Regions from separate parts of the Homo sapiens genome. Here regions 1, 2 and 4 are each linked to region 3. Evidence: fine-mapped expression QTL. A gene starts in region 3. Each other region holds a variant in brackets. All regions are shown on one strand. Distances are from middle to middle. Region 1 overlaps RBL2 (RB transcriptional corepressor like 2). Region 2 overlaps RBL2 (RB transcriptional corepressor like 2). Region 3 holds the start of AKTIP (AKT interacting protein). Region 4 has its middle 14 kb from the start of RBL2.

What was found.
Region 1: its variant is fine-mapped to the expression of AKTIP in whole blood (INTERVAL, PIP 0.98).
Region 2: its variant is fine-mapped to the expression of AKTIP in tibial artery (GTEx, PIP above 0.99).
Region 4: its variant is fine-mapped to the expression of AKTIP in cerebellum (GTEx, PIP above 0.99).

What each region holds. Positions count from the first base shown.
Region 1 is chr16:53,474,658-53,482,799 of GRCh38, reverse strand. It overlaps RBL2 (RB transcriptional corepressor like 2), which reads right to left. Exons shown (of 22, transcript NM_005611.4): 18 at 3,575-3,646; 19 at 2,809-2,914; 20 at 2,031-2,233; 21 at 965-1,129. Among named protein-coding and RNA genes, the nearest start is that of AKTIP, 24 kb to the left of the region's middle. The variant G/AG (reference allele first, on the strand shown) is at 4,255.
Region 2 is chr16:53,441,372-53,449,490 of GRCh38, reverse strand. RBL2 (RB transcriptional corepressor like 2) reads right to left here. Exons shown (of 22, transcript NM_005611.4): 3 at 6,633-6,833; 4 at 2,385-2,449. It also overlaps the pseudogene RNU6-1153P. Among named protein-coding and RNA genes, the nearest start is that of RBL2, 11 kb to the right of the region's middle. The variant A/G (reference allele first, on the strand shown) is at 4,548.
Region 3 is chr16:53,499,435-53,507,434 of GRCh38, reverse strand. AKTIP (AKT interacting protein) reads left to right here and starts at 4,226. Exons shown (of 10, transcript NM_022476.4): 1 at 4,226-4,288; 2 at 7,106-7,217. The coding sequence starts at 7,176. It overlaps LOC124903690 (a long non-coding RNA gene), which reads right to left and starts at 3,055. Exons shown (of 2, transcript XR_007065069.1): 1 at 3,015-3,055; 2 at 1,457-2,694. RefSeq lists silencers at 3,059-3,148, 3,869-4,108, 4,129-4,198, 4,459-4,758 and enhancers at 3,469-3,568, 4,029-4,528, 4,529-5,030.
Region 4 is chr16:53,416,196-53,424,319 of GRCh38, reverse strand. No RefSeq gene overlaps it. Among named protein-coding and RNA genes, the nearest start is that of RBL2, 14 kb to the left of the region's middle. The variant G/A (reference allele first, on the strand shown) is at 3,923.

The DNA of each region.
Region 1 (8,142 bases), 25 kb after region 3:
TCGCTTTTGTCACCCAGGCTGGAGTGCAATGGCGCGATCTCTGCTCACTGCAACCTCCACCTCCTGGGTTCAAGCTATTTTCCTGCCTTAGCCTCCCGAGTAGCTGGGATTACAGGTGCATGCCACCACACCCAGCTAATTTTTGTATTTTTAATAGAGATGAGGTTTCACCCTGTTGACTAGGCTGGTCTTGAACTCCTGACCTCAGGTGATCTGCCCACTGTGGCCTCCCAAAGTGTTGGGATTACAGGTGTGAGCCACAACGCCCAGCCTCTAAGCAACCTTTATCAATAAAAATCTCATTATGTAAGGGCCTTCACAATCCAGTTCCACTCGCTAACATAGCATGATGCCCGTAATTAAGCTTTGGATCACTGTCTGCCTCAAGGACACTGTTTTCTTCCCCTTAACCTGCTTCCTGCTGAGTGCCCTTCCATACCTCAACAGCTCCCTGACTTTTCAACATTAAGGCCTGACTCAAGCTTCCTTCCCCTTCTTAGAATGAGGTGGCTGTTGCCACATACATCTGTGCTAATATGACTATTGCACTGCAATGTCAAAAATGTCAACTTCTCCCATTAGCCAGAGTCCTGAGGACACTGCCTGTCCCAGAAACAGGCCTTTGGTAAGGAATCCAAAATTTCTTTCCCTAACAAATGTGGAAAATTGTTACAAATGGGATAAACACAAATTTCAGGTTTACAGCAAAATGTACAAATAGGAGAGGGAATAAAAAGAAATCCAAATCCCTTACCCTGTTTCCCACCCTAAAATTCCACCCCCTCCCCCTCAAAAAAGGCAAAAAACAAAACAAACCCTGGGTTTTGCTTCATGAGGACTGACTGATCACTGCTCCCTGGCAGCTCTCATCACTCTAATGAGTGCCTAAGCTTAGCACAAACCCTGTTTCTAGCATCTGAAGCATTTTGAGGTTAGTAAAGGCCAAGATTGATGTTAGGCTCACCTTTGAAGGACTGTTGCTGAAGTAATAGAAAATCTTTTCTCGAGGAGAAAGCATTGTTTCATTTTTATGTGGGGAAATGTAGACAGGATGATTTTGAGACAACTGTATTCGGCGAGGGGAGCCTGTTCTTACAAATGGATAGGGAGAGAGTGGAGGAGCATCCATCTGTTTAAAAAAAAAAAATCAGTAATTCTAAGAAAAAAATTTATAATTATTTTTACTGAAAATGATTATTGAGTGAAGAGGTGTGCTAAACCAGTAGTTTTATGAATGACAGAGTGATGTATTAGCAATAACTTAACCTAAAGAAAAATATTCTAATAGCAAACCTTAAGTGCTTAGTTTGTGCCAGTTATTATTTTAAGCAATTTTTATACATTATGTCATTTCATCCTTACAACAACCCCATATGCTAGGAACTAGTTATATTCCCATTTTATATATGAGGAAATGAGGTACAGAGAAAATTTAATGATTTGCAAGGTTACCACCACTGTTAAGTACTGGAAAATTTGAACCCATGTAGCCTGTCTCTTGTACTACTATACTTTGTAGGGACTCCAAATACAATCTTACTCGTTTAATGCTTAACAACAGTAGAATTTATATTGGTTAGGTAAATTACAGACCTCCTCAGTTTTACTTAATAGAATTATTTGTAAAACTAGCTTATTTATGAGACAGAGTCTTGTTCTGTCACCCAAGCTGGAGTGCAGTGGCACAATCTCAGGTCACTGCAACCACCGCCTCCCATGTTCAAACAATTCTCCTGCCTCAGCCCCCAGAGTAGCTGGGATTACAAGTGTGTGCCACCACGCCCAGCTCATTTTTGTATTTTTAGTAGAGACTGGGTTTTACCACGTTGGCCAGGCTGGTCTTGAACTCCTGACCTCAAGTGATCTGCCCTCCTCGGCCTCCCAAAGTGCTGGGATTACAGGTGTGAGCCACCACACCTGGCCAAAACTAGTTTATATACGGACCAGGTGAATGGTCCATATATAAATCATAAATGATTCCTCAACACTCATGAGTGAAAAAAGTATGAAATAATCCCTGTCATACTTACATTTGCCTGTGAGTACTTCATGGCAAATGTCTTAATCTGTTTGATGTAGATGTTGTTGTAGAACTGAATGAGGTCTCCCCTCTCCTCTTCTTCCATGTCACTGTTGGCACCTGTGAGGCGAGTAGGTGTGGGAGGAGCACTGCTGGGCTGTGGAACTGGCAAGGTGCTGCTTGACCTCATAACTGGACTGGAGTCTCTACTGGCTGCAGCCAGGAGAACAAAGGCTGTCAGTACAAAGGCTGCTAATATTGACTGTTTTAATTTTTTAAAAGTAGGAGAAAGGGAACAGCTACCTGCACTACTTGCTAATAACAGTGAATAGGCACTCTGTTCTTCACACCAAAAAGCAAAGCTCAGCTAGGATATTAACTTTCTCCCTATGCCATAACCATAGCAAGGGCTTTCTGAGTAGTGTCCATTAATAAGTTACACCAAATTTTCTAGGACCTAAGCCCTGTACTAAGTGGTACAAAGCAACAGGCAGGGGATGGTATTTCCATAGCATGGTTCCAATTGACATATCAGACCTTTCTGGAACTCAGGCAAGCAGATTCCTCCCTGAAAGCTCTAATTCTCCTGGAGAAAAATGTTACATAATATGTGCCCCAAAGCTATGTAATGGACAGTTTTGCCAGCTAGAATATGGTTTACTGATCTATAAAACACTTTCATAGTTTCTATAGTTATTTCATTTAGTAATGCTTAGTTACTTCTTCAAGGCCTAAAAAGTAAGAAAAGCTCCTAATTTTGTCTTGTAGTTCACAAAGATCCCACTTACTTCTATCTTTGTTTAGTTCTGTTGGAGAATTCTGATGGCTTCTGCTATCACTGCTGCCAGAATTTCTTCTTTTTCTTTTCCCTTTTATCAAAACACTTCTATACACCTTTAGAGAAACAATGAGAAGGGGACATAAACTAGTATTTGTTGAGCACACCCTTGGTGATAGGACCTTCACATATGTTACTTGGTTTTCACAATAACCTGTATAGCAATAGTTGTCCTCAGAACAGGTTGAGAAACATAACTCAAATTATAACAGATCCAGGATTCAATCAGAGCCCATCTAGCATCACATGCCAAGTACTACCTGCAGTACTACACTGCAGTGACAGCACCCAACCATAATGTCAAGTCATTCTAAGTAAGATACACAGATCTGGCCGATTTGCCTCTCAGAGATGAATGGTAATAAAGGCAAAGTGGGTTTTAAATTTCCATGTGACATTCTGTTGGTTAAACCTACAGTATGTTTACTAAACCAGAATGAAAGGTGACATAGAAACCAAGTAACTTCTTAATTCCTATCTTGTGATTTTTCTGAATTAAGAAGGCAATCAAATATTTAACATTGTTGCCTTTTGAGGAAAAGAGACCTTAATCAACATGTGACATCAAGAATAAAGATTAAAGTAGAAACTTCCCTTAAGTAGAGTCCCAGGTGTTTATCTTGGAAAAAAGGCCACAGAGTCAACTATGGTTAATTTTTTGTATTCATCACAGACTTTAAGCTTTATTTTTCAGCCCATAGAGAAAATGTAGTTACCTGGCTCCGGGCCTGCGGCTGAGTCCTATAACAACGCATAATGTTCTGGAAGGACTTATCTTCTTTTGTGACCTGGCAAACAATAAGAGTGCTCTGAGAGACATGGCAACTACCACCATAATAGTGTGAGGAGCTCTGTGAACCTGCTGCCCAGTAAAAGGGGTGAAAATTATATAAAAGCTATTTAAAGTCTCTGGAAATGGTATTAACGGCATATAGCAAATGAAGATACATCGATTCAAGAATATCTATTAAAATTCAATAAAAACAATAGGAGTCTATAGTATGTGAATCAAGACTTAGAGGCCAGGTGCGGTGGTTCACACCTGTAATCCCAGCACTTTGGGAGGCTGAGGAGGGTGGATCACTTGAAGTCACGAGTTCAAGACCAGCCTGGCCATCATGGTGAAACCCAGTATCTACTAAAAATACAAAAATTAGCCGGGCATGGTGGCACATGCCTGTAATCCCAGCTACTGGGGAGGCTGAGGCAGGAGAATCACTTGAACCTGGGAGATGGAGGTTGCAGTGAGCTGAGATTGAGCCACTGTACAGCCTGGGTGACAGAGCAAGACTCTCTCTCAAAAAAAGACTTGGAGTAGAAAAGTACAGTAAATGAAATGAAAAATTCACTAGAAGCTAGGGAAAACAGATTTGAACTAGCAAAAAAAAAAAAAAAA[G/AG]GATTAGCAAACATGAAGAAAGAGATTGTGTGATCTGAGGAACAGAGAAAGAATGAAGAAAAACAGCCTCAGAGAAATGTGGCACACCATTAAGGAAATCAACATACGTGTAATGGGAGAATCAGGAGAGGAGAGAAAGAAGCAGAAAAAAATGTTCAAAGAAATACTGAAAACTTCCCAAATTTATTAAATTACATATCCAGGACATTCAGTGACTTCCAGGTAGGATAAACTCATCCGTACCCAGATATATCACAGTAAAAATGTTCAAAGCCAAAGAAAGAAAATATTAAAAGCATCAAGAGAAAAACAACTTTTCAGTTACAGGGAAACCCCAATAAAATAAAATTTGACTTCTAATCAGAAACTACAGAGGCCAGGAGGCAGTGGGATAACATTCAAAGTGATGAAAGAAAAAATATTAAACTAAGAATCCAGTATTAAAAAGTTACTCAAGATTTTTATCTCTGAAATGTCAATATTCAAAATTTTTGCAAGTTATCTTTCAGAAATGAAGGTAAAATAAATATACTCTCAGATAAACAAAAACAGAATTTGGTGCTAGCAAACCCCTTACAAGAAATACTACACAAAATTCTAGAAGCCAAAAGCAAATGCCCCTGGACAACACTACACATGAAGAAAGCCAAGAGCACTGGTAAAGATAATTATGTAATCGTAAATACAGTATAACTGCACATTTCTTCTCCTTTCTTAACTGATTAAAAAATCAATTGTATAAATAATATATATATATAATGTACCCATAACATACAAAAATGTAACATATTTGCCTACAACAGTACAAAGGAGGTAGGCAGGAGCAAAGCCATATTGAGCAAAGGAAATTACTCCAGATGGCAACTCACATACACAGGAATGAATAAGAGAAATAGAAATAGGCTGGGTGTAGTGGCTACTCCTGTAATCCCAACATTTTGTGAGGCTGAGGCAAGTGAACTGCTTGAGGCCAGGAGTTCGACACCAGCCTGGGCAACATGGCAAAACCCCGTCTCTACAAAAAAATACAAAAATCAGCCGGGCATGGTGGCACATGCCTGCACCCTGTAGGCCCAGCTACATGGGAGGCTGAGGCAGAAGGATCATTTGAGCCCGGGAGGCAGAGGTTACAGTGAGTTGAGATTGCACCGCTGCTCTCTAGTCTGGGCGACAGAGCAAGACTCAGTCTTAAAAAAGAAAGAAAGAAAGGAAACCAGAAATTATTAATAAGGTTACTAGAGCAAAAGTTTTAAATACATACTTACACTCCTTTCCTTTCTGCTACTTTAGAAGTCATAAAATTGTATCAATAATTATAACAATGTACTGGTGGAGTTGTACATTTATGGATGTAATATGTGTAACGAAACAGTTAACACTCCTATATCTCACTGGAATTAAGTCAGTATAATCTGAAGCTGATTTTTGATAAGAGATATATGGTAAGCCCTAGGGCAACCACTACACACACACACACACACACACACAAAATGAAACCAAAGTACTGACGTTAAAATGCTACTTTAGAAAATATTGACCTAATGCAAAAGCAAAGCTGCAAAGGCAAAGGGAAAGACATGAAAACAAAAAGTAAAATGGCAGATGTAAATCCAATTATATACATAGTCAAAAGGCAAAAGAAATCCAAATGTATTTTATCTACAGGAGACATTTTAGATTTAAAAAATACAAATACATTCGAAAATGAAAGGATGGAAAGAGGTATACAGACAGCAACCATAAGAAAGCTGGGTGACTATATATCTCACACTATAAATCAGACTTCAGGACAAAAAAAGTTATTAAAAAGGGACATTCCATAATGATAAAAGGATCAAGCCATCAGGAATCTATAACAGTTATACACATACCTAATAACTGAGCACAAAAAATACCTGAAGCGAAAAGTGACAGAAGTGAAGGGAAAAGTAGACAATTCAGCAATAATATTTATAGATTTCAGTACCTCACTTTCAAGAATGGAGAGATGATCTAGGCAGATCAACAAGGAAACAAAACACTTTACTAACAATATAAAACAATTAGACCTAACAGACATCTACAGAACACTCTCCCCAACCTCCACAGAATACACACTGTTCTCAAATGTACTTTGAAATTCATTAGGATAGAGCATATATGCTAGGCTATAAAACAATTCTTAATATATTTAAAAGAACTGGAATAAAATGAAGTGTGTTTTCAATCACAATGAAAGTAGAAATCAGTAACAAATTTGGGAAACTTACAAATACGAAGTTAACAACATATTGCTACATAACCAGTGAGTCAAACAGAAGCCAAAAAAAGAAATCAGAAAATACTTTTGAAATGAAGACACACCATACCAACACTCATGCAGCTAAAGCAGTGCACGGAGGAAAATTTAGAGTTGTTAATGCTTACACTGAAAATGAAGAAGGGCCAAGGGCGGTGGCTCACACCTGTAATCCCAGCACTTTGGGAGGCTGAGGAGGGAGGATTGCTTGAGCTCAGGAGTTCGAGACCAGCCTGGGTAACACAGCAAAATCTCGTATCTACAAAAAATTAGCAGGGCATGGTGGTGCACGGCTGTGGTCCCAGCTACTCAGGAAGCTTAGGGAAGAGGATCACTTAAGCCCTGGAGGAAGGCTGCCGTGAGCACTACACTCCAGCCTAGGCGACAGAGCAAGATGCTGTCTCAAAAAAAAAAAAAAAAAAAAAAAAAAAAGATATTGAAATATTAGAAAGGTATCTTTTAAAAGATACTGATATCTACGTAAAGGATTTGGGGAAAAAAGATATTAAGAGAAATAGTAAATTAATTACCTAAACATCCATCTTAAACCATCTTAAAACAACAGAAAAGGGCAAAAAGTAAGCCTCAAGTAAGCAGAAAGAAGGAAATAAGATTATATACTAATGAATAAAGAACACAAAAATAGATAAATGAAACCAAAAAGCTGGTTTTTAAAAGAAAAAGATCAAGAAAATTGACAAACCTTTAGCTAGACCAAGAACAAAAGGGAGGAGTCTCAAACTACTACAAAAAGCAGGGCACAGGGGCTCATGCCTGCAATCCCAGCACTTTGGGAGGCCAAGGTGGATGGATCGCTTGAGGCCAAGAGTTTGAGACCAGCCTGGGCAACATGGGGAAATTCCATCTCTACTAAAAATACAAAAACTAGCTGGGCGAGGTGGCACAGGCCTGTAGTCCCAACTACTCAGGAGGCTGAGGCACAAGAATCACTGGAAACCAGGAGGCTAAGGTTTCAGTAAGCCAAGATCATGCCCCTGTATTCCAGCCTGGACAACAGAGTGAGACTGTCTCAAAAAACAAAACAAAACGAAAACTACAATCATAAAAGGAAAAGGACATTACTACTGACCTTAAAGAATAAAAAAGAACAGAAGGAAATATTATAATTATTTGCCAACAATTTAGCCCAGAGGAAACAGACAAATTCTTAGAAAGACATACACTACCACAACTGATTCTAGAAGAAACAGATGATCTGAATAGACCTATAACAAATAAGAGACGGAATTATTCACCAATAAACTTCCCACAAGGAAAATCTCTGGTCTCAACAGCTTCGCTGCTGAATTCTACCAAACTTTAAAACATTAATACCAAGAAGCTCATATCCATGGGTCTTTCAGGCAGCTGTAAATTAAAAAAAAAGGCAAAGGAAAAAATATAATACCTAAATATAGAAGAGAACACTTCCTACTCAATTCTATGAGACCATTATTACCCTGATAATAAAACCAGACAAAGCCACAACAAGAAAACTACAGACCAATGCCTCTTATGCATAAGGATAAAATTCCTTAGCAATCACTGCTGCATGTGGAAACTTGAAAAAATAAATATTTTTTTTAACTGAAAACAAATTCCTCAACAAA
Region 2 (8,119 bases), 58 kb after region 3:
CCCAAGTAGCTAGGATTCCAGGCATATGCCAACATGCCCAATCCACAAAGGTTCTTAAGGTGGAATTATTATAAACTGAATTAATGAGATAAAAGTCAAACACTGAGTTAATTACAGAGAAAAAACCACCCCAACAGGTCCAGTGAGAACAAAATAAGGACAATGAAATTATTTTTTATTGTATTGTACATATTATATATAGTACCAACTATATTTACTTCTAAGTACACATATGCCATAAAAGACAAACAAAACAGATAAAAATCCTAGAAATGAGACATACTTGCCCAATACAATCATATGAAAAGATTACCATCATACATAATAGCAGTCACACATTCTAAAATTTGTAGCCGCTGTAAAAATGGTTTATATACTCCAAAACCTTTATTTCATGCCACTGATCATGTCGCCTTTATCATCACTAAAGAAACATGCCAGTGTCATGTATGACAAAAGAAAGATTTTTCTCTTGAATCAAGCATGCAGCTCAGGGAAGGAAGGATGGCGGCTCTCACCCTAATTAGCCAGAGAGGGACCAGGACAAATCAAACCTGGAGACCAACAATGTAACACATTCTTCCCAGAGGCCTTCACAGCCAGTATGAAACTAAGAACCAGGAACCAGGAGATCTGAGTTCAATCTTAGCTTTGTTCCCAGCAGCTAGTTTCTGGGCTCAGCTGCCTAATCTTTAAAGTAACTAAGCTGACTGAGCATGGTGGCTCACACCTGTAATCCCAACACTTTGGGAGGCCGAGGTGGCAGATCACTTGAGGTCAGGAGTTCGAGACCACCCTGGCCAACATGGCAAAACCCCAACACTACTAAAAATACAAAAATTAGCCAGGTATAATGGTGCATGCCTGCAATCCCAGCTACTCAAGAGGCTGAGCCACAAGAATCACTTGAACACAAGAGGCGGAGGTTGCAGTGAGCAGAGATCATACCACTGCACTCCAGCCTGGGCAACAGAGCAAGATCCTGTCTCAAAAATAAAAATAAAAATAAAAAATAAAGTAAATGAGTTAAGCTAGGCCGGGTGCGATGGCTCACGCCTGTAAGCCCAGCACTTTGGGAGGCTGACGCAGGTGGATCACGAGGTCAGGAGTTCAAGGCCAGCCTGGCCAAGATGGTGAAACTCCGTCTCTACTAAAAACTACAAAAAATTAGCCGGGCACAGTGGCAGGCACCTGTAATCCCAGCTACTCGGGAGGCTGAGGCAGGAGATTGCTTGAACCCGGGCAGCAGAGGTTGCAGTGGGCCGAGATCGCACCACTGCACTCCAGCCTGGGCAACAGAGTGAGACTCCATCTCAAAAAAAAAATAAAATAAAGTAAGTTAAGCTAGTTAATCTAATAATGAGAGTCTCTCTTATACTTATGAAACTCCTTCCAGCTCTAAGATTCTTTGTTAACTTTGCATTTTATTGAGCCATCTTAGTGGCAAAGGCATTCCACATAGTATACAGAAGAAAGCTATATAATAATATAACTGCACTTTCCTATCTACTTTAAAGAATTGTTTCTACATAGAAATATAAAAAGGAACTGGGCGCAGTGGCTCGTGCCTATAATCCCAGCACTGTGGGAGGCCAGGGCAGGCAGATCACCTGAGGTCAGGAGTTTGAGACCAGCCTGGCCAACATGGTGAAACCCCATCTCTACTGAAAACACAAAAATTAGCTGGGCATGGTGGTGGGCGCCTGTAATCACGGCTATTCGGGAGGCTGAGGCAGGAGAATTACTTGAACCTGGGAGGTGTAGGCTGCAGTGAGCCGAGATTGTGCCACTACAATCTACCCTGGGAGACAGAATGAGATTCCATCTCAAATAAATAAATAAATAAATAAATACAAAAAGGACAAAAAATAATAGAGACATGTATTTCACTGAATGCAGACCTTGGGTAGGTTAAATGAGACAAGAAAAAAGGGAAAGAAAATAAATAGTATATAAAAGCATTTGACTAAGTATACTTATCTGAACAAGATACAAAAAAAAATCTGAACAGCTCTGAGGTTGATCAGTAATTGCGCTCAACTAAATAAGATACATCTCATGAAAAATAGAGTTCACAATACAAGCATATACAGAATAATGTGTTTTCAGCTCATAATTTAAAAGAGTAGCTTTGGGTAGAAAAGATGTTGTATACAACAAAGTTAATGGACTTTCCATTTAATAAGAGAAGATTTGGATATTGTAAAGAAATCCAATAGATCCTTTGATGAAAAGGCAATACTTAAAAAAGAATCTAGGATTAAAACCCTTGAGAAAATTTTCAGTGAAAATCTTTTCCTGATACATATTAGAAGTTGACAAAATTAATACCTGAAAATGTAAATAGACATATTAAATCTAAATAAATATTACTATTTTCTTACCTTTTGCATATATAAAAAGCACCCAACAAAAATGGAAAATTTCAGACACAGTACAGGGCTGTCGCCTTTGGGGGAAGAAAAAAAAAAGTCATGAGACAACAGAAGAATCAGAAAAAAAAATCCCAAATGATTATAAATCAGGTGTAAAATAAAACCCACAGTTAAAGGGAGAGACAACAGATTCAGCTTCACATGGAAAACGTGGACGTTCTGCCTTAACAAAATATTGGTAGGAAATAGCTGGGATCCAGGGAAAGAGCCCATCTCAAAGAAAAGAAAATTCTTAAAGAATTTTTTAAAGTTTTTTGAGGGCAAGATAGGTGAGGTGGAAAATAAAATGAATAAAAATAGTTCTTTTGATGACACAGCAATGCTATGCTGCTTTAGGACCACTATATGCAGTCAGATATGTCCTTATTTTTTTCTCCTTTATCATAGCTAATGACCTGTATCCCTCCCTCCCTCCTTAAAGATATTCCAGACTATATCAAATCACAAAAGGCCTTTTTAATGTAAATTATGAGCTTCCTATAATTCCTTATACTTCCATCCATTAAGAGTACCTGTTGTATATTGCCAAGTAGTCTGCCAAGTTTCAGACCTGCTTTAAGCTTGGCTTTTCTACCAAAACCTCTGACAACTTTTAGACAAGAAATCTGTGGTCTCCACCTCCCAACAGCCTTATTCTAACAAGGTGCCCAGAAGAACGAAATTCCGTGGAGAAGATTAGATTAGATTTAGTTCCAGCACTGCCATTAGCTAGGGTACTTGCTCACCTGGGCCTTAGTCATTTCATCTGTCAAAAGATTACTCTACTTGGGTACAATACTGTACTTAGTTCACCAGTCCATGGCAAGGATTAAATGTCAGTGTTCTGCTTTTAAAAGTAGCCTCTCTACCATAGGCGCATGATAAACTATTTCTAGTTTTAGTTGCCTACCAAAATAAAATTCAATTTTTTTTAGCTTAACACTTAAGCTACTCTTAATTCTGGCTCTACAACTTGAGAATTCTAGAAAAAAAAACTTGACTAACCTCCCACATTTCTTCTTGCTTTACTGCTTTTGTCTTTTCTTGTTTCCTCTACACAGAAGGTGCTATCTGTATCTTCAAATTCACCTATCAAACTCGTACCCATCTTTCAAGACCCATTTCTACTTATTCCATGTAAACTTACCTGACTGGCTCATCCAGAGTGATTTCTTTTCCTCCTAAGTTTTACATCTGTATTCCCTCTGGTAGTCATGGGACTTTTATAACACACTGCATTGCATGCACTGGAATCTTCATACCTGCCTCATCTCGCTGACTGTACTGTAAGCTCTCAGAAGACAGAGACTGTGGGGTTTGGTGTTTTAAAAAATGCCTGTGTCCTACATAATACCTAACAGTATTTCCTGTGGATAAGTGCTAAACAAATAGTGACACATTTTCAGATAGTGTGTGAGAGATGCAGTATATAGTCACAGTAAAGCACATGGGTTCCCGCAGTCAGTTTCAATAAGAACTCCACGCTTGGTTGTGCGACCCTGGCCAAATTACTTAACCTCTCTGCGGCTAATTTTCTCTATCTAACAATAGTATGAGTATCACAAGGTTGTCAGAGGGATTAACTGAAGTAATACATATTGAAGTCTTAAGAGTCCCTGCCCCAAAGTAAATGCTCAGTAAGTGCTATACATTATGACTATAGTTAACAGAAAGAGCTAACAGAAAGTATACAAAGTGATTAAAATGTAAAATCTCTAATAAAGTGATTTACTTTTTTTTTTTTTTTTTTGAGACAAGGTCTTGCTCTGTCACCCAAACTGGAGTACAGTGGTATGAGCACAGCTCACTGCAGCCTCAACCTCCCAGGCTCAAGTGATCCCCCCACCTCAGCCTCCCCAGTAGCTGGGACCACAGGTGTGCGCCACCACTCCAAGCTAATTTTTCTATTTTTTGTGGAGATGAAGTTTCGCCATACTGTCCAGGCTGGTCTCAAACTCCTGGGCTCAAGTGATCTGTCCACTTCAGCCTCCCAAAGTGCTGGGGATCAGGTGTGAGCCACTGCACATGGCCTTTTAAAATTCTCTTAATTAGAATTAGGTAGTATATATATCCTAAGAAATAGCAAAACAAGTGCAATCTGAAATTATTTTCCAGATACTCCAAAGAAAGAAG[A/G]TATCTTCCCATAAATGATCACATTGGCCTCACTCAGACTCAGTACAAAGCTTCTATTCAAACTTTAGAATACTTCATTTTTTATTTATTTATTTGGAGACGAAGTCTCACTCTGTCACCTAGGCTGGAGTGCAGTGGCGCGATCGCAGCTCACTGAAACCTCCGACTCCTGGGTTCAAGTGATTCACCTGCCTCAGCCTCTCAAGTAGCTGGGACAACAGGCACACACCACCATACCTGCCTAATTTTTGTATTTTTAGTGGAGATGGGGTTTTGGCACATTGGCCAGGCTAGTCTTGAACTCCTGACCTCAAGCAATCCACCTGCCTCGGCCTCCCAAAGTGCTAGGAGAATATGTCATTTTATTTATTTATTTATTTATTTATTTATTAAAATGGAGTCTCGCTCTATCGCCCAGGCTGGAGTGCAGTGGCGTGATCTCGGCTCACTGCAACCTCCAACTCTGAGGTTCAAGTGATTCTTCCACCTCTCCCTCCCAAGTAGCTGGGATTACAGGCACCCACCACCACACCCCGCTAATTTTTTTATTTTTAGTAGAGACGGGGTTTCGCCACGTTGGCCAGGCTGGTCTCGAACTCCCGACCTAGAGTGATCCACCCGCCTTGGCCTCCCAAAGTGCTGGGATTACAGGCACTCAGCCAGAATACCTCCTTTTATTTGTTTACTTATTTATTTATGAGATGGAGTTTCATTCTTGTCGCCCAGGCTCGAATGCAATGGTACGATCTTGGCTCACAACTTCTGCCTCTCGGTTCAAGGGATTCTACTGACTCAGCCTCCCGAGTAGCTGGGATTATAGGCATGCACCACCACGCACAGCTAATTTTTGTATTTTTAGTAGAGACGGGGTTTTGCCACGTTGGCCAGGCTGGTCTTGAACTCCTGAACTCAGGTGATTCGCCTGCCTCAGCCTCCTAAAGTGCTGGGATTACAGGCGTGAGCCAACCCGCCTGGCTCAGAATGCTTCATTTTAAATAGTCAATTCCCCAAAACTGTAAGTGAGCTAGACCAGATGCTTCTGTATCAGTGGTGCCATCTATATTAAAATGTAAATAGTTCTAGTTTTTTTAAATTTTTTTTCCTCCTGGTTTGTCATTCCCCCATTTTATTTTTAAAAGGTTACACTTAATGTAAACATCCTTCACAGTCTGGGAAAACTTTTATATTTAAAGAGAAGCAAACATTATTTATTCTAGCCAAATAATTTTAACTCCTTTCCCTTTACTTTTCTTGTCAACATTTTTCTAATTGTTAGAATTTTCATTTCTACTTTATGAAAAAACTTTCAATGATAAAGAAGGAAAATGTGTATTCCATAACTGCCTTTATCTATCAGGAAAGGTAGAAAACACTGAGTCAGAGCATGCTTATAGACTTTGCAGAAGTGATCAGAAAGCACAAATTCATAATAGTTTCAGTTCTCCTGTCTTTTCCCAATCCAGTCTCTCTATTCTGAATTCATTATAAACATCAAAATACATAGAGAAGTCATTTCAAGGGGATTATTTATTACTCAGTTTGACATAAAATAGTCTATATAATCACTAGTAGAAAATATAGTGGTTAATATAGTGATCTATATCTAGGGCAGTGCTCCCTTCGGCAGCACATATACTAAAATTGGAACAATACATTGATTAGCATGGCCCCTGCGCAATAAAAAATATATATATCCAGATACAGATACAGATACATCTCCAAGGCGGCGAAAGGGTGAAAATCCCTAAGTCTGACTTGTACAGTCTGCATTTTTTGTTGCTTAAATGAAAAAGGAAGGTTTCAGAACAAGGATCACTGAGGAAAAAATAATAATAAAATAAAATAAGACAAATGAAAGTTTATAGAAACAAAGACCTGTATACATTTAGCAATATGAAAAAAGCCACTCTTCATGGCTAACCCACAATGAAAAGCAAAAAAAGCATCATTAAAAGAAAACGACTGAGGAAAAAGATTTTTTAAATCTTATTTCTTTTTTAAAACCAGAAAAAAAAAACCTAGCAGAATATCAACACTGCAGCACAGACTAACGTGTATTCCTGATGAACCAACAAGAAAACCTACCGCTGTTTCCTTCCTCGCTGCTGACGAGGTTGCTCCTCTTGAGGGTATTTAAAGATGTCCTGAAAAATGGGTTCATATTTCTTAAAAATTACAGCAGAAACAGTGAAGTTTCTTTCTAATCTCTCAGTACGTTCTCTGAAATGTGGGGGTAGATTTGCCATGTCTTCCCACTTCTTCATCTTATTAAAAAATTCGATTAAGCTGGTATTAAAGACAAACAAGATATTTCATAATTAACATAAGGCTAAAGTATACAAAAGTAAGTATTCAAAAGTAAATCAATATTATCGCATTAAATTATATTACTTTTAGACAGTGAAATAAAATCACAACTCATGTCTCTGACTAGCTTAATTTCTTACAGATTGGTATATTCCTCTGATCCTCCTAATCCATTTTGTTTAGGTTACCTAAAGTATTTGTTAACTATGAAATATTTGAAAATACAAACCAAAATTAACAAGAGTAACCTAACCAACATTCACGTTGGTTCACTGCCAGATTTTTTAAATGTTAATATATTAAATAAATTTTGTCGTTTTTGTTTTTGTAAGAGATAGGGTTTCGTTCTATCACCCATGTTGGAGTTCAGTGGCAAGATCACAGCTCACTGCAGACTCCTGGGCTTGAGTGATCCTCCTACTTTGGCTTCCTAGAACACTGTGATTACAGGTGTGAGCCACCTCCTCCTGCCACTTCAGATTTTTTTTTAAACTAGCAACACTATAGAAGCAGTCAAGGCTAGGCGCAGTAGCTCACACCTGTAATCCCAGCACTTTGGGAGGCCGAGGTGGGAGATTCACAAGGTCAGGAGTTTGAAACCAGCATGGCCAACATGGTAAAACCCGATCTCTACTAAAAATACAAAAAATTAGCTGGGCGTGGTGGCGGGCACCTGTAATCCCAGCTACTCAGGAGGCTGAGGCAGGAAAATCACTTAAACCTGGGAGGCGGAGGTTGCAGTGAGCCGAGATCACGCCACTGCACTCCAGCCTGGCGACAATGCGAGACTCTGTCTCAAAAAAGAAAAAGAAAAAGAAAAAGAAACAGTCAAAATTACCATTTTATACTCCTCCCTAATCCCATCCTTACCCTTCTACCCCAAAGATAAAAACCATTCTAAAGTTGGTCTTAATCCTTCCTATGTTTTCACACTTACTACACATACACATGTATGTGTAAACAATAAGCAATATCTTATTACGTGTTTTTACATTTTATATAAATGCTATCATACTTCAGTGGTATTCTGCAACTTGCTTTTTCACACTCAATAATGTTTCTGACATTAATGTTGATATGTAAGATATATTCATTTTAATTGCTAAAAACATTCTTTCATATGAACATACAATGACTTTTTGCATTCACTCCCCAACCAATGGAAATTTAGGTTGTTTCTAATATTCCATGATAACAAAACATGTTGTAATGAAAACATCCTTATACATGTGTGCAGGAGTTTCTTTGGGGACTACTCCAAGAAG
Region 3 (8,000 bases):
TTAAAAAAAACAACAACATTAAATGCCTACTTTGGTCTCATCCTAAACATTATTACCCATAAAATAATGGCTTTAATGTGCTAAGTATATTTTTTCAAAGACATTAATATGTATAGCTAGATCATCCTCCCATATTTTGAACAGTATATGTAATCAGTGACATGTATACAGGAATCTACTTTTCAGAAAAGGACTTGGGGGCAAATGGATTGCGCTAAAAACATCGGCTTATATGTGTGCCTGTGTATGAAACATATGTATTTTAACAACCTTCAACATTTTATCCTTTCCTTCTTTCTGTGAAGGCCTTTAATAGTTAAGTCAGTGATCTAAACAGCTTTGTACAGTTACTTTTCCGGAGTCCAAAAGATGTATGATTCAGGGAATATTTTGCTGATTAGAACATGAGCAGAAGTCCTGAATACTCAGAGATCACATATCTATTAAGTCTGGATGCAAAAAGAACCTTTTGGTGCAAATATATCAAATATGCTTCAAAAATTGAGAATAGGAAATGTAATATGAAGCGATTTAAAATGTTTTATAGGTAAGGTTTTGGGTCCATTGAGATTTTTCTCAGCACTTTATGTTTTAGTCTTAAAGAAATGGTACCTTGAGGCCACCTCCTCATTTCCCTTTGAATAAATCATCCTGATTTTCATAATGAGTTGCTTTCTTGGTGCAGACCTGTGGGCGTGCAGGTAGGTGTTTCAAATGTACTTTTGTTTCTTCTGTCCTTCATTTGGCAAATATTTATTGCATGCCTACAACATCTAGCTCTTGGGTGCCGGGGAGACAATAGAAAGCAAAAAAATGGTTCCTCCTCAGGAGCTTACAGTGTGGGAGACAGACACTAATAATCTCCCAAATCAACAGCAAATTGCCCCCAAGGAAGTAGTGTTAGAGCTGAGATCTGTGTAGGGGATTGAAGAGAATGAACTGGGCAAAGGGAACGTTCACTGCGAAGGCCCCTTTTGTGGCAGGGCAGGTAGGGGAGCAACTCCCTTCCAAGGAACTGGAAGAATGTCAGAGTGGCTGGAGTCTGCAGCCACCTGGGGCTGGGACACAGCCATGGTGAGGAGTTTGGTCTTTGCCCAATGGGGAACCACTGAAGGGCTTAAATTCCTCAAGAAAATGGAGGTTCTGTCAGCAATGAAAAAGGGAGAAGTGGGTATTAGGTATACAGGCAATAGTGCTTACAGAAACACCCCAAACATACCTACCCAAAACACAACCCAGATTTTCCCATTTCCCACTGTCCCAAACCTGCTTGTGGTTCACTGTTTGTCACCTCAGTGAATGGCCTCACCATCCATCCTGTAGCTCATGCTAAAAATCTAGGTGTCAGCCATATCTGCCTCTTCATCCCCCATACCTAGTCCATGGCCAAGCTCTGTCCACCCCACCTGTATGAATCCATCAGTGTTGCTATAAAGGAATACCTGAGGCTGGGTCATTTATTTTTAAAAAGAGGTTTATTCAGCTCATTGTCCACTTCCTTGGGGCAATTAGCCATTGATTTGGGAGATGACTTGATTAGCATCTATCTCCCGTAGCTCCATGAGGAGGAACAATGTCTGTTTTGTTCTCCAACGCCTCCCCAGCATTTAAAGCCTAGATGTCATTAAGCATGCAATAAATATATGTCAAATGAAAGACAGAGGCAACTAAGTATAAGAAGCATGGCACCAGCATCTTCTGGTGAGGACCTCAGGAAGCTTCCATTCATGGCAGAGGGAGAGGCCAGCAGGAATCATTTGGCAAGAGAGAGAGCAGTGGTCAGGGGAGGAGAAGGTGACAGGCTCTTTTTGACAATCAATTCTCTCGGGAACTAATAGAACTCACTCACTACTGCCAAGAACTCACTACTGCCAGGACAGCACCAAGCCTTTCATGAGGGATCAGCCTCCATGACCCAAATACTCCCACCAGGCCCCACTTTCAACATTGGGGGTCACATTTCAATATGAGGTTTGGAAGGGTCAAACCATATCCAAACTATATCATCCCGTCTTAAACATCTCTGGAACTCATTCAATTCTCCATCTCTACCTTCAAATTCATGCGATTCTCTGTTGCCTGAACTACTGCCATGGTTCCTCAACTGCCCCGTGAGCCTTGTGCCCCTACAATCTGTTTTCCGCACAAAGTGATGTTTTCAAAATACAAATCTGATCATGGCTCTCCTCTGCCTAAAGTCCAGGCAGAGATCTAGGGAAAATCTCAGCCCAAGTCGATCATGGCGGACTCCTTCCACTTGCCGTTGACTGGGTTTCGTTGTGGCCAGAGACTTACTTCTGGCCATTGAAACCTGCAGGCATTTCTTCTGCGGAGCTTCTGGGAAAGGTAGTCATGTATTTCAAAAGGGACCACTGGAAGAAAGGGATACTTTTAATTTTGTGAGATCCTGGGTGTGCCGCGGCCATCTTGCTACCAGCCTGAAAGTGCAATTCCAGGGACTGCAAGGAAAGCAGAGCCTGAAGACCAGGGCACCACCTCTGGAGACAATCCTCCCATGGGAGAGAAATCCCCTTGCTAAGTAAGCCGGTTTGAGTTGGCTTTCCTGCCATGTGCAGTCTGATGCTGGTGTGCGTCTGAGTCATCCGGTGCCAAGTACGCAGTTGATGACATGCATTGGAAGCTCAGTGGATAGATGTGAGCTGGAGAAATACCTATGTGGGTCCTCGGTGAAAACTGAAGGTTGGGGAAAGGAGGAAAGCAGAAAAAAAGCTTTGCAGAGGATAATGAGCTTCAAAGAAGATTGGGAGGAAATGGGCCACAGAGGTGCCAAAGGAGACCACCTGTGGCCTGAAAAAAGGATTTCCTGCTTGCCTGCCTTTCTGTATTAAGACTCGTATTAAAAGGCATGATAACATTCCTAAATGTGTCCTAAGGGGACAAAAGGAAGTGGCTCAGAAGTGTTTTCAGCTAGGGGAGGAAGCTGGGTTTCAGAACCAACCCTTGGGATTAACATCAGGAGAATTTGGCTTCCTGCCCTTTAATAAGTCACTTACCAGAATCTCAGAGGCAACCAAAAATGGACCAAACAACCCGGCCAGAGAATGCGGCTTCTGAGTGTAAGACACTGAGGCGGTGTCACAGACAGGTCAGTGCCTCTGGTGTCTAGAAAAGGGGCAGGGGCTTGCGGGGAGAGGGCTGTCGCGCAAGTGTGGAAGTGGAGTGCCGAGATTGGACGGACTAACCACGGGGAGGCACCGTTGGTAAGAACAGGCCTGGAAAGCAGCTGGCAGCAGTCACAGAATTAGGCCAGAGAGAGACCTCCATGGGAAAGCAGACGGGAGGTCCAAATGAGAGCGTGTGAATTAAAAAAAAAAAAAAAAAAAAAGACCAGGAACTATGTTGCTATGGGAGAGGTTCTCCAACTTCAGTGTGCGCCAGAATCAGCAGCGAACTGTGACAGATGTGGATTCCTGGTCCTCAGCCTCCCCCCTCCCCCCAGCCCCCGGCCCCCACTCGGATGCTGCAGGTCGGGGCCGACACACACAGATTTACAAAGCTCCTCTGGCTGCTCTAGTGCCCAGGGCCCACTTGGAGCTGAGCTCCCTTCAGCTCCAGCCTTCAGCTCCTGCACTGATGGAGAGAACGGGCGTTTCTTGATGCCACGCCAAGTGTCCTTCTGACCCCTGGTACCCTGTGGGCCCGACGTGGCGGCCTCGGGCCTCGCAGCGCCGCCCAACGCAGTAGGACCTAGCGATGGGAGCCACTGGGCAGTCGCGCGGCCCGGCCCTCCCCAAAAGCTTGGCTTGCAGACGTTAGCGTATGCCCCAGCCCCTGCGCATGGCGGTTGCGCTGTGGGCTGTGCGAATAAACCTCCGGGAAGGTCTCCGTGGTGACTGGCAGACGCCCTGGCCAATTGTGACCCGGCGCTTGTTTGTCTCTGCCCCATCCCTCCCCGGGGGGCCGATACTTCCATGACTGACAGGCCGTCCCAGGCGCTGTTACGTAAGGGGAGGGTCAAGTGCAGTCCCACCCAAACCGGGGTGATTTGATTTGCAGGACCGAGTGTGTTCTTCCCAACGCCCCCGGAAGAACGTCTTTGACGGGCAGGTGTGAGAGCCAGTTGGCGCCGGGAGGCCAGGCGGAAGCCTCGGGCCCCAGGATCGTGCAGCAGGGGGCGGAGCCCGCTGCCGAGGGCAGGGCAGGGCAGGGCAGGGCGGGGTGGGGCGGGGCGGGGATCAAGCAGGGGCAGGGCTGGCGCTGCGGCGGGAGATGCTGTCGGGCCGCGGCGGCGCTTGGCAGCCAGGAGCTCTGCATTGAAGGCACTGGGGTGAGGCTTACTGCCCGGCAGGCTGGTGGGTACGCGAGGGCTGAGGTGTCTGTAAATCTGGCCGCCAGCCTCCACGGGCCCGGCATTTGTCCATCTTTCTAGGCGCTCGCGACTCGGCGACGGCGGCCGCAGTGGGACACGGAGGCGGGGCCGGGCACCTGTGCGCGTTTGCAGGCACCTGCTGCGCTGGCCGCCTCGCAGCCCGGGACTGCTGCTGGGGACTGCGGCTGGAGCTGGGCTGGCCCGGCCCGAGGGAGAGGGGGGCCCAGCTGGCTCGCCCCGGCCCGTGCCCGCCCTCCCCGGCCGGGTCCCGACCCCGAGCTCTGGTTAAGGGGGCGTCGCCGGGCCCCAGAGCCCCCCCACTGGAGGGGCCCGCGGCTCCCGGGCCAGCATCGAGCTAGCTGCGAGGCCAGGACAGGGCCCCCGCCTTGCATCACCTCGAGACAGGTTTGTCCAGATTCCCTGAGTGCTCAGAGACGGGTTTCCGCCCGCGGTGAGGGTGCCGGTCCGAGGCCGCCGCGGGTCCCGGCTGTCCCCAGCGAGCCTGGCCCGGGCCGTTTTCATCTTTTTTTTTCTGGCCCCTGCTCTGTCTCCTCTTAACGTGTAATTTCTTAAGTCCGATTCGGGGTGATGTGAGTGCGCTGTGGCATGTAGAGTAACAGCAGCACTCATGTTTTAGCCTAGTTTTAGCTCTGCCACGCACTGTCATTCGCGCAGGCTGAAGACCCAGACTTCTCAGCTGGGTGATGTAAAGGAATGCAGCCGTGGCCAAACAGGCAGAAATTCTAAAATTGTTTCCAAGTGACAAGGATGTAACATGTCTTGCTTCCATCTATGTCATTCCTCTCAGAACATGTATGCTGTGCTTGTCCTAGACTAGACCCTGAAAAGTGTGCTACAGTTTCTCGTGATTATGTTGCTGCTGGAAACATTGGATTAAAAGATCCATAGCAAAGTTAGGCAGCAGAAGACAATACCTCCTGCTTAATGACAGGCAGAACTGGGGACAAAATTTACTGGATTCTTAAAGAGAATCCTAACGCGTTAGACCTTTAAGAGACTTTACAGGTTTGCACCAGCCCATTAAATGTATGTTGTGGAGCACACCACTGTGTCCCAAGGGATCCGGTCCCGTGTTAGGTGTGTCCTAGAGGACACTGGGGTGCTGCACATTACTGCTAGATCTGAAAATCAGTGTCTTCATTTGAGCCAAAGGGGAACATGCCCCCGCACATTTTTGATATCTCAAGTATATTCAGTGTGTCATACTCACCTTTAAAGGCAGATTTGCGGAGAACTGTTGTTACTTATTGCATGTTATCCATGCTAGTAGAAGAGCCAGGATCTTCATTCCTCTGATTTAATTACTGGGTGGCATTTTCTCTTGGAAAACAAAACAGCAGTAATGGGCACTGGCAAGGTATGGATGACCTGGGTTGGGTACGTCCCTGGATGTCACAAGCTCGTCAGAGAAGACAAATTATTGCTGATTGGGGACATTTAGTACATGGTTTGCTCATGATCTGTTTAAGAAATTAGGAAAACGTTGCTTAGTTTTGACCCTTTTCACCTTCAGCCGTTTGATTGGTGCAAGTAGGAATTCAGAGAAGGAGCTCTGCTTTAAAGGTAACAGAGCCTGGGGGGAAATACCAGGGCAGGGAAGTTGCTGTTCTTACAGCTGGGCTTGGCTGCTTTTCCTTTGCTTCTTTGTATTTTTAGTAAATGACCCACTGACTTTATGACCTTTGAGACATGCTTTCTTATCCACGACTTGAAGCTTCGGCTGGAAGATCTGTACTTGTGAAATGTCTCTCTTGCGTGCCTGTGTTGCATTTGTCTGGATTGCTTGGCAGTTCCTTAAGTACATGATCCTGCAGTTTCTATATGTTTCGAAGTTGTAGAAGGCAGTTTATTGGGGGATGGTACTGACAGGACTCAGGTAACTACTTTTGTCGTCTTAGTGACATACTTGTGCTGTGCCTTCCTGTTTTCTCTTATTTCTTTGGCTAATACTTTGCTGGAGGAATCATTTTGTACTCAGGTGAGTTGAGGCAGCGCTTAAATCAGCCTCCTTGTATCTATTGTTTGTTCCCATAACCCTGGGAACAGTGATACAACTTATGTGTATGTGGGTACAGTGCATTCTGAGTCTGGCTTTCCTGTTAGTTAAATGCCGAGATGTGCTAGTAACAACTGTTGTCCGTATCTTCTGAATTTCTGGCACCAAAGCTCATCTGTGTCACTGAGTAATCTGAATCCTGGCCAAGGGACCTGGTGCACAGATTCTTATAGACATCTAAGTGTGAAAGAAATTAGAACCAGAAAAGGAGGTGGGTATAGAAGGAAACTATTTCTGAAGATGCCTGAAGACCTTTTCCTAGGTTTTTATAACCCCTTGTTATATAACATTATATTGTATATCCAGGGTGTCATAATTAGTTATTCATCATTTCAGAAGTCTTAACTGTTGGCCGGGCGTGGTGGCTCATGCCCGTAATCCCAGCACTTTGGGAGGCTGAGGCAGGTGGATCACTTGAGGTCAGGAGTTCGAGACCAGCCTGGCCAACATGGTGAAACCCTGTCTCTACTAAAGATACAAAACTTAGCTGGGCATGGTGGCAGGCACCTGTAATCCCAGCTACTCAGGAGGCTGAGGCAGGAGAATCGCTTGAACCCAGGAGGTGGAGGTTGCAGTGAGCCGAGATCACACCACTGCACTCCAGCCTGGGCAACAGAGTGAGACTCCATCTTAAAAAAAAAAAAAAGTCTTAATGGTTGGTGTTGGCATGTTTCTATGTCTTCCCGTCTTGTTTTAAGGTAAAGTGAATGCCGAAGACAGAAGATTTGGATGATACACCACTGACTTTCTTTGTTTGGAATACACGTTATGAACCCTTTCTGGAGCATGTCTACAAGCTCTGTACGCAAAGTAGGTATAGTTGATAAATTCAGTAAGAAAACCCATTTGCTTCTGTGTCTGAAAATAGGGTCAGAATGAAGGCTAAAATAATCTGTCACGGTCACCTGTAATCTTGACAAAATTACCTGGTTTTTCTAGTTAAGGGTTTACTCTTGAGAAATAATTATTTTGTTGGTTGAAGTCTGTTTCTGAGACTAGGATTGCATCTCAAATAGAAATCGTTCTGGTCATCACAATTCTAAGATGATTTAGGTTATATTTACACATGATGAAATTTGTAACATTGTAGTTTTCTACTAAACTTCAAGGTTCTACGGTTAGAACAGCTGTGGGAAAGGCTAGTCTAATATCATTAAATCAGACTTGAGGGGCACTAATTTAATTTTTCTAAATAAAATGATTTTTTAAAAATATATTTTCATTTTAGGAAAGGTTAAAATAGGCAAACAATAAGAAAATAAAAACCAGCTGGGCACGGTGGCTCATGCTTGTAATCCCCAGCACTTTGAGAGGCCGAGGCGGGCAGATCACGAGGTCAGGAGATCGAGACCATCCTGACTAACATGGTGAAACCCCGTCTCTACTAAATATACAAAAAAATTAGCTGGGCATGGTGGCGGGCGCCTGTTGTCCCAGCTTCTCAGGAAGCTGAGGCAGGAGAATGGCGTCAACCCAGGAGGCAAAGCTTGCTTGCAGTGAGCTGAGATCGCGCCACTGCACTCCAGCCTGGGCAACAGAGCAAGACTCCATCTCAAAAAGAAAAAAAAAAAAAAAAAACTATAATCTCACCTC
Region 4 (8,124 bases), 83 kb after region 3:
AGAAAGGATCTGGTATGGTAAATTCTTGTCCTAAAGTAAAATGACTGGTTGTTTAAAAAGAGGGATATTTAGGACAAATAAGAAAGTCCAAGCATGTCATAGATGTTCTGTATAAGTCATGAAAGGATTCATAGAAGAAAAATTTATGCACCAAAAGTGAAAGTTGCTAAGAATTACCATTATAACATGTAATTAAGACTACTAAAGGTATAGGTTGGCCAGGTGCAGTGGCTCACATCTGTAATCCAAGCACTTTGGGAGGCTGAGGTGGGAGGATCACTTGAGTTCAGGAGTTCAAGACCAGCCTGGCCAACGTGGTGAAACCCCCTCTCTACTAAAAGTACAAAAATTAGCCAGTGTGGTGATGGGCTCCTGTAATCCCAGCCACTCTGGAGGCTGAGGCAGGAGGATCACTTGAACCCAGGAGGTGGAGGTTGCAGTGAGTCAAGATCGCACCACTGCACTCTGGCCTGGGTGAAAGAGCGAGACCTTATCTCAAAAAAAAAAAAAAAATAGGTTTACATGCAAGGTGTGTGAGGAGAATAAAATGTTTTTCGTAAGAGATTATTCAAAGGCATGGGAATGTAAATTGTTTCCTAGTTTAGAGGGTTAAAGGATTGCTTTAAATAAAATAAAGCTATAGGCTTAAACAAGTTGTGGAAGGTTTGTAAAAATTAACCTTGTAAAGGAAATTCTGGCTGAGTGTGGTGGCTCATGCCTGTAATCCCAGCACTTTGGGAGGCCAAGGCAGGCATATCACTTGAGGTCAGGAGTTTACAAACAGCCTGGCCAACATGGTGAAACCCTGTCTCTACTAAAAATACAAAAATTAGCTAGGCATGGTGGTGCACACCTGTTGTCCAAACTACTCAGGAGGCTGAGGCAGGAGAATCACTTGGACCCAGGAGGCAGAGGTTGTTGAGCTGAGATCGCACCACTGTACTCCAGCCTGGGTGACAAGAGTGAAACTCTGCCTCCAAAAAAACAGAAGGAAAGAAAAGAAATTCTATGTGTGAAAATATTGACTAAATTTAAAATGGTATTATTAGATTTTTCCATAAACTGAACATCCAAATAAAAGTACAACAAGGTTTTCTTAAAGCACTAATCTGCTCTTTAACAAAAATTTGTAAAGAGTTATAAAAGGTTTATGAAAATCTTGCCTTATGGTCAAACTGATTAAGATTGGATAGATTTGTCTATACAATTTTACTAAAAATTGGGGTTGACATTAATAGTCCACTAATGCAAATGTGAAATTCGTCTTTCTCTCTTGAACAAGATTTTCATGTTATATTAAAAGTAAGATAATCAATTTTTTTTGTTTGTCTTTTAAATGCTCCACCAAAAAAAAAAAAAAAGGAAGGGAAAGACAAAGGACAGATTGTTTGCAAAACTAATCCTTCCCTTTATTAATGAGTAAAAGTTTTTGCCTTTTAAAAATTTTTGAGTCATTAGTTTGGCTAAATGAATGACTTATGGTGACCTGGAATTCTTGTTCATAATATCAAGTGTTTTAAACTTTTATCATATTTAATATGCTTCCCAAAATCAAGTTTCAGCTTCAAAACGGTCTTTTCTAACCTTTAACTTTGGAATGCTACAGAGGGCCCCTGAAGCATCCAAAAGACAGGTAAACAGAATTATTTGACATGTTAGATTACATGGGAAGCTTTGTCAAAATAAAAATAATGTTTAATCTTCAGGTTATATTTTAGTAAATGATATTAATATATGTTCCAAAATTGTATGAAATTTATAAAATTCTAGTATGTCTAAGCATATGCTATCAATTATAATTATTGTTATTATGTAAAGTTATTGTACACCACAGAAATAACCAAATTTCCTTGTATAAAACTGCTAACCTAAATAGAACAAAAAAATTAATTAAATACCAAGAAAATACTTTGCCAAATTTTCATGTTAAACCAGCTGATATTGAAATTGTTTAGACATACAATTTAAACTTCACAGTCTAAGTCAAATTACCTATAATAACTCATTAGTTATTAGTGCTATGCACCTAATTTGGGGAAACAACTGGTATTCAAGAGGACATAAGTTGAATGTTAAGCATGGATTCATGGAGAACCAGGGTGGCTGCCTTGTCCTTCCTGAGTCCTTAAAGCTTTTTGTTATTGAGGGTTCTGCATTCCATGACTCATGATGGAAAAAATAAAATAATCCCAGTTAAATATATTAATGTGGTGACTTATAAAATGCAAAAATAGTTTAAAACCAATGTTTGGTTCCATATTCCTGGGAAGACAATAAAACCACCTGGTACATTTGGCTACCTGATGGGTCACTTAAACATTTATTAAGGAGTTTCATTCAGTTGTCATTTTTAATGCATGTTTTAGGTTATAAAAATTATTATGCCACAGTATATTTTAATCAGGTAAAGAAAGATTTTTTATGGTTCACTGAGGACAATCAACCCCTTCACAATCTAGAACTTGAAGACTGGATCTTCTGAGGACATCAGAGAAAGGCTGTCCTTGCCATCCACATTGCAACAAAATTTTGACACCTTGAAACCTGGGTTCATAATCTTACAACTGAGAAGAGTCCGTCGACACTCTTAGAAGTACACACCCATTGGAACCCTTAAGGTAAAACTAACCAGGAAAATTTCTCCCCAAAGGAAGATGTCATGCTTGATGTGAACAGCTTTTCCCAAGGTCACGGATCCAGACTGCCACTATCATAATGAGAGGTGACAACATGCTAGCAGCCCTCGCTCACTCTCGGCGCCTCCTTGGCCTCGGCGTCCGCTCTGGCCACACTCGAGGAGCCCTTCAGCCTGTCGCTGCCCTGTGGGCGCCCCTCTCTGGGGCTGGCTGAGGCCAGAGCCGGCTCCCTCTGCTGGCCGGGAGGTGTGGAGGGAGAGGCATGGGCGGGAGCCGGGGCTGCGCGCGGGGTTCGTAGGCCAGCGCGGGTTCCCGGTGGGGGCAGGCTCGGCAGGCTCCCACACTCTGATCAAGCCAGCGCCTGCTAATTTCATACACAGGGAAATGCAGGCAATCGGGAATAAAAAATAAATAAATAAATAAAATAAATAAATAAGTACATAAAAACTGCCTTCTTAGCCCTTGTGTCATTATAAACAATTATTGTGGCTGGGTGCGGTGGCTCACACCTATAATCCTACACTTTGGGAGGTCAAAGCGGGTGGATCACTTGAGGTCAGGAGTTCAAGACCAGCCTGGCTAACATGGCAAAACCCCATCTCTACTAAAAATACAAAAATTAGCTGGGTGTGGTGGCGCATGCCTGTAATCCCAGCTACTCTGGAGGCTGAGAAAGGAGAATCGCTTGAACCCAGGAGGCGGAGGTTGCAGTGAGCCAAGATCACGTCACTGCACTCCAGCCTGGGAGACAGAGCGAGACTCTGTCTCAAACAAACAAACACAACAATTATGGCCAGGTGAGGTGGCTCACGCCTGTAATCCTAGCACTTTGGGAGGCCGAGGCGGGCAGATCACGAGGTCAAGTTAGAGACCATCCTGGCCAACATGGTGAAACCCCGTCTCTACCAAAAATACAAAAATTAGCTGGGCATGGTGGCCCGCGCCTGTAGTCTGAGCTACTCAGGAGGCTGAGGCATGAGAATCGCTTGAACCCGGAAGGTGGAGGTTACAGTGAGCCAAGATCGGGCCACTGCATTCCAGCCTGGTGACAGACCAAGACTCCATCTCAAACAAACACAAAAACAAAAAACAATTATTGCCTTATGGTGCCTACAAGGATGTTGGAGTGGTGTGGTATTACGGTATGGTATTATCTACCCTCAACTGCTTTGTAGCACTGAGGTTTTAGACATTGATATAGCTGAATATTTGTCCCCACCCAAATCTCATGTCTAATGTAATCCCCAATGTTAGGGGTGGGACCTGGTGGGAGGTGAAGTCTGATC[G/A]GGTCGGAGCCCTCATGGCTTGGTGCTGTCCTGCAGATGGTGAGTGTGTTGTCATGAGATCTGGTCAATTAAAAGCACGTGGCTCCTCACCCCCTCTCTCTTGCTCCTGTTCTAGCAATGTGATGTTCCTGCTTGCACTTCACCTCTGCCATGCTTAACAGTTCCTGGAGGCCTCCCCGGAATCCTAGCAGACACTGCCATGCTTGTGTTACAGGAAAGGGATTCCGATCCCTTTAGACATACAATTTAAACTTCACACTCTAAGTCAAATTACGTAAAATAACCCATTGTCAGGATCTCTCACAAGAAAGAATTTGGGGAGAGTCCATGGAGTAAAGTGAAAGTAGGTTTATTAAGAAGGTAAAGGAATAGGCTGGGCACTGTAGCTCACACCTGTAATCCCAGCACTTTGGGAGGCTGAGGCGGGCAGATCACCTGAGGTCAGGAGTTTGAGACCAGCCTGGCCAACATGGTGAAACCCCACCTCTACTAAAAATACAAAAATTAGCCAGGTGTGGTGGTGGGTGCCTGTACTCCCAGCTACTCTGGTGGCTGAGGCAGGAGAATCACTTGAACCTGGGAGGTGGAGGTTGCAGTGAGCCAAGATGGGGCCACTGCACTCCAGCCTGGGTGACAGAGCGGGACTCTGTCCCCTGCAGAAAAAAGAAAAAAAGAAAGTAAAGGAATAAAAGAAAAGAATGGCTTCTCCACAGGCAGAAAAACAGCACAGGCTGTTTAGCTACTTATACTTATTGTTACTTCCAGATTATATGCTAAACAAAGGGTGGATTATTCATGAGTTTTCTGGGAAAGGGGTGGGCAATTCCCAGAACTGAGGGTTCCTCCCCCTTTTAGACCATATAGGGTAACTTCCTGACATTGCTGTGGCATTTGTAAACTGCCGTGGCACTGGTGGGAGTATCTTTAGCATGCTAATAAATTATAATTAGCATATAATGAGCAGTGAGGACGACTAAAGGTTATTTTCATAGCCATCTTGGTTTTGTTGGGTTTTGGCTGGCTTCTTTACTGCAACATGTTTTATTAGCAAGGTCTCTGTGACCTGTATCTTCTGCTGACCTATCTCATCCTGTGACTTAGAATGCCTCACCTCCTGGGAATGCAGCCCAGTAGGTTTCAGCCTTATTTTACCCAACCCCTATTCAAGATGGAGTTGCTCTGGTTGTAACGCCTCTGGCACTCGTACAGCCTGCAGAACTGTGAGCCAATTAAACCTCTTTTTTTTTTTTTTTTGAGACAGAGTCTTGCTTTGTTGCCCAGGCTGGAGTGCAATGGCATGATCTCAGCTCACTGCAACCTCCACCTCCTGGGTTCAAGCGATTCTCCTGCCTCAGCCTCCCAAGTAGCTGGGATTACAGGTGCCTGCCACCAGGCTGGCTAATTTTTTTTTCGTATTTTTTTTTAGTACAGACTGGGTTTCACCATGTTAGTCAGGCTGATCTCAAACTCCTGACCTCAGGTGATCCACCCGCCTAGGCCTCCCAAAGTGCTGGGATTACAGGTGTGAGTCACTGTACCCTGCCCTAAACCTGTTTTTACAAATTATTCAGTCTCGGGTTTTTTTGTTGTTTTTTTGTTTTTTTTTTTTTTTGAGACAGAATCTCGCTCTGTCACCCAGGCTGGAGTTCAGTGGTGCGATCTTGGCACACTGCAACCTCTGCTTCCTGGATTCAAGCGATTCTCCTGCCTCAGCCTCCCAAGTAGCTGGGATTACAGGCATGCACCACCACGCCTGGCTAATTTTTTTTGTATTTTTAGTAGAGATGGGGTTTCACCATGTTGGCCAGACTGGTCTCGAACTCCTGACTTCAAGTGATCCACCACCTTGGCTTCCCAAAGGGCTGGGATTACAGGCGTGAGCCACTGTGCCCAGCCTCAGGTGTTTGTTTTTACAGCAACACACAAATGGCCTAACACAGACACTTTTACCTATTGTTGTCTTCCTTCTTGCATTCAAGCTGTAAGATGTTTCTTTTCCCTGGGCTCACCATATGATCTCTTGGTAACACTCTTTTTTCTGTCTCTTATTGTGGGGAGGGCTACTTGCAAACAGAGTAAGTAAAGTAGTGTCTGGGAATATGTATTAAGTTAAGGATGAATAGGACATGAGTAGCCAGTGCAGTGGCTCATGCCTGTACTCTCAAAACATTGGGAGGCTGAGGTGGGAGGATCACCCAAGTCCAGGAGGTTGAAACCAGTCTGGGCGATATTGCAAGACCCCGTCTCTACAAAAAATTTTAAAAATTTGCCAAGCGTTCTGGTGCGTGCTTGCGGTCCCAGGTACTTGCGAGGCTGAGGCAAGAGGACTGCTTGAGCCCAGGGGTTCAAGTCTGCAGTGAGCTATGATCGCACCACTGCACTCCAGCCTGGGCAACAGAGGGAGACCCTGACTTAAAAAAAAAAAAAGGCCATGGGTGAGGGCATCGCCTTGAGTAGAGGGCATGAACATTAATGATTGAGTTTAACAGGTTTGGTTCTTGGAGTCTGATTAGTCATTTATTCATTCATTTAGCCGGAAAGCCTGCTGTCCATCCATTAAAACATTCAACAAATGTTTAGTAAGTGCCTACTATATGTCAAATACTTTGCCAGACACAGGATATAGTAGTAAATGAGACAAGCATGGTCCCTGCCCTTATACAGCTGTGATCTCATGGGGAAAACAGACCTAGAACAAGAATTGGCAAATGTGAATACGACATATCATAAAAGCGAAACTTCAGGGAGCTATAGGAGCTATAGGAGTGCATCACAGAAGACCTTAACCGTGTGTGTGTTGGAGAGACAGAAAGAGGGAGAGAAAGGAGAGAGAGGAGGAGAGAGGAGTGAGGTGGGGGTGATTGGGTAGGTAGGAGGGGACAAAGGTTTTTCTTTCTTGCCCTTCATTTCCCTGGGGAGGAATCTGGAAGTTATAGCTAAAGGAAGGGGAGGAGGATTTGTTTCGGGTAGAGGAACATGCTTATTATGCAAAGAGCCTGAATCAGGGAAAAGCATGGCTGGTTCAGGGAGTTAAAAGAATGTGAACGTGGTTTAAGTGTAAAAAGTGAAAGGAAAAAGGCACAAGATGTGGGTAGAGATGAAGTCAAAGGCCTGGGGAAAATATCGGCCTTGATTCCAAAGATGATTAGAAGCCACTTAAGGTTTTAGGCTAAGGAGGGCAGTAACATTCTTCTCTCCCAAGAACTGAGAACAGTTGAGCAACTAAATAGTTGCTCAACTGATGAAGCTAAACACCGGGCTTGACTGACTTCCAGGCCACAGCTGGTAGGACGGATTCCTCAGTCATCATTCAAAATGTAAAGTCTTCTACCTGAGCCAGGATGAAATCTTTCTCTCCTTGCTATCAGCCAGTCCCTTCCTTGTGCCCCCAGGAGGCACTCTCAGCTCCTTTTTTTTTTTTTCCTTTTTTTGAGACAGAGTCTCGGCTCTATCGCCCAGGCTGGAGTGCAGTGGCACGATCTTGGCTCACTGCAACCTCCGCCTCCCAGGTTCAAGCAATTCTCCTGCCTCAGCCTCCCAAGTACTGGAACTACAGGCGGGTGCCACCACACCCGGCTAATTTTTGTATTTTTAGTAGAGGCGAGGTTTTGCCATGTTGGCCAGGATGATCTCGAACTCCAGACCTCGTGATCCGCCCACCTCAGCCTCCCAAAGTACTGGGATTTCAGGTGTGAGCCACCGCACCCGGCCTGAGATTAAATTTTTAAAGTTTAATTCCTTTGAGGTCATTGCAAATCATTCAATAGTTCATTCCTTATTACTAAGTACTATTCCATTGTATGGCTGTACCACGGTTTGCTTAGCCATCCACCTGTTGAAGGACATTTGGGTTTATAGTTTGGTTGTTAAAAATAAAGCTTCTGTGAAAACTCATGCACAAGTTTTTGCATGAATATCAACTTTTATTTCTCTAGGGCAAGTGGCCAGGAGTGCAGTTAGTGGGTACATAGTTAAGCACGTTTCTAATTTGTGAAAACAAAATAAAACAAAACAAAACACCAAGCTGTTTTTCAGGGTGGTTGTTCACCATTTTTGGATGGCACTATTCAGAGACCTGTAAACCTGCACTCTCCTGTGCACTGTTCATCCTCAAGGGGTGAAAGTAGCATAGCAATTGGGCCAATTACCTCACAGCTGCTGAATTTATGAACTTATTTCAGCCTCCCCAGTAGCTGGGATTA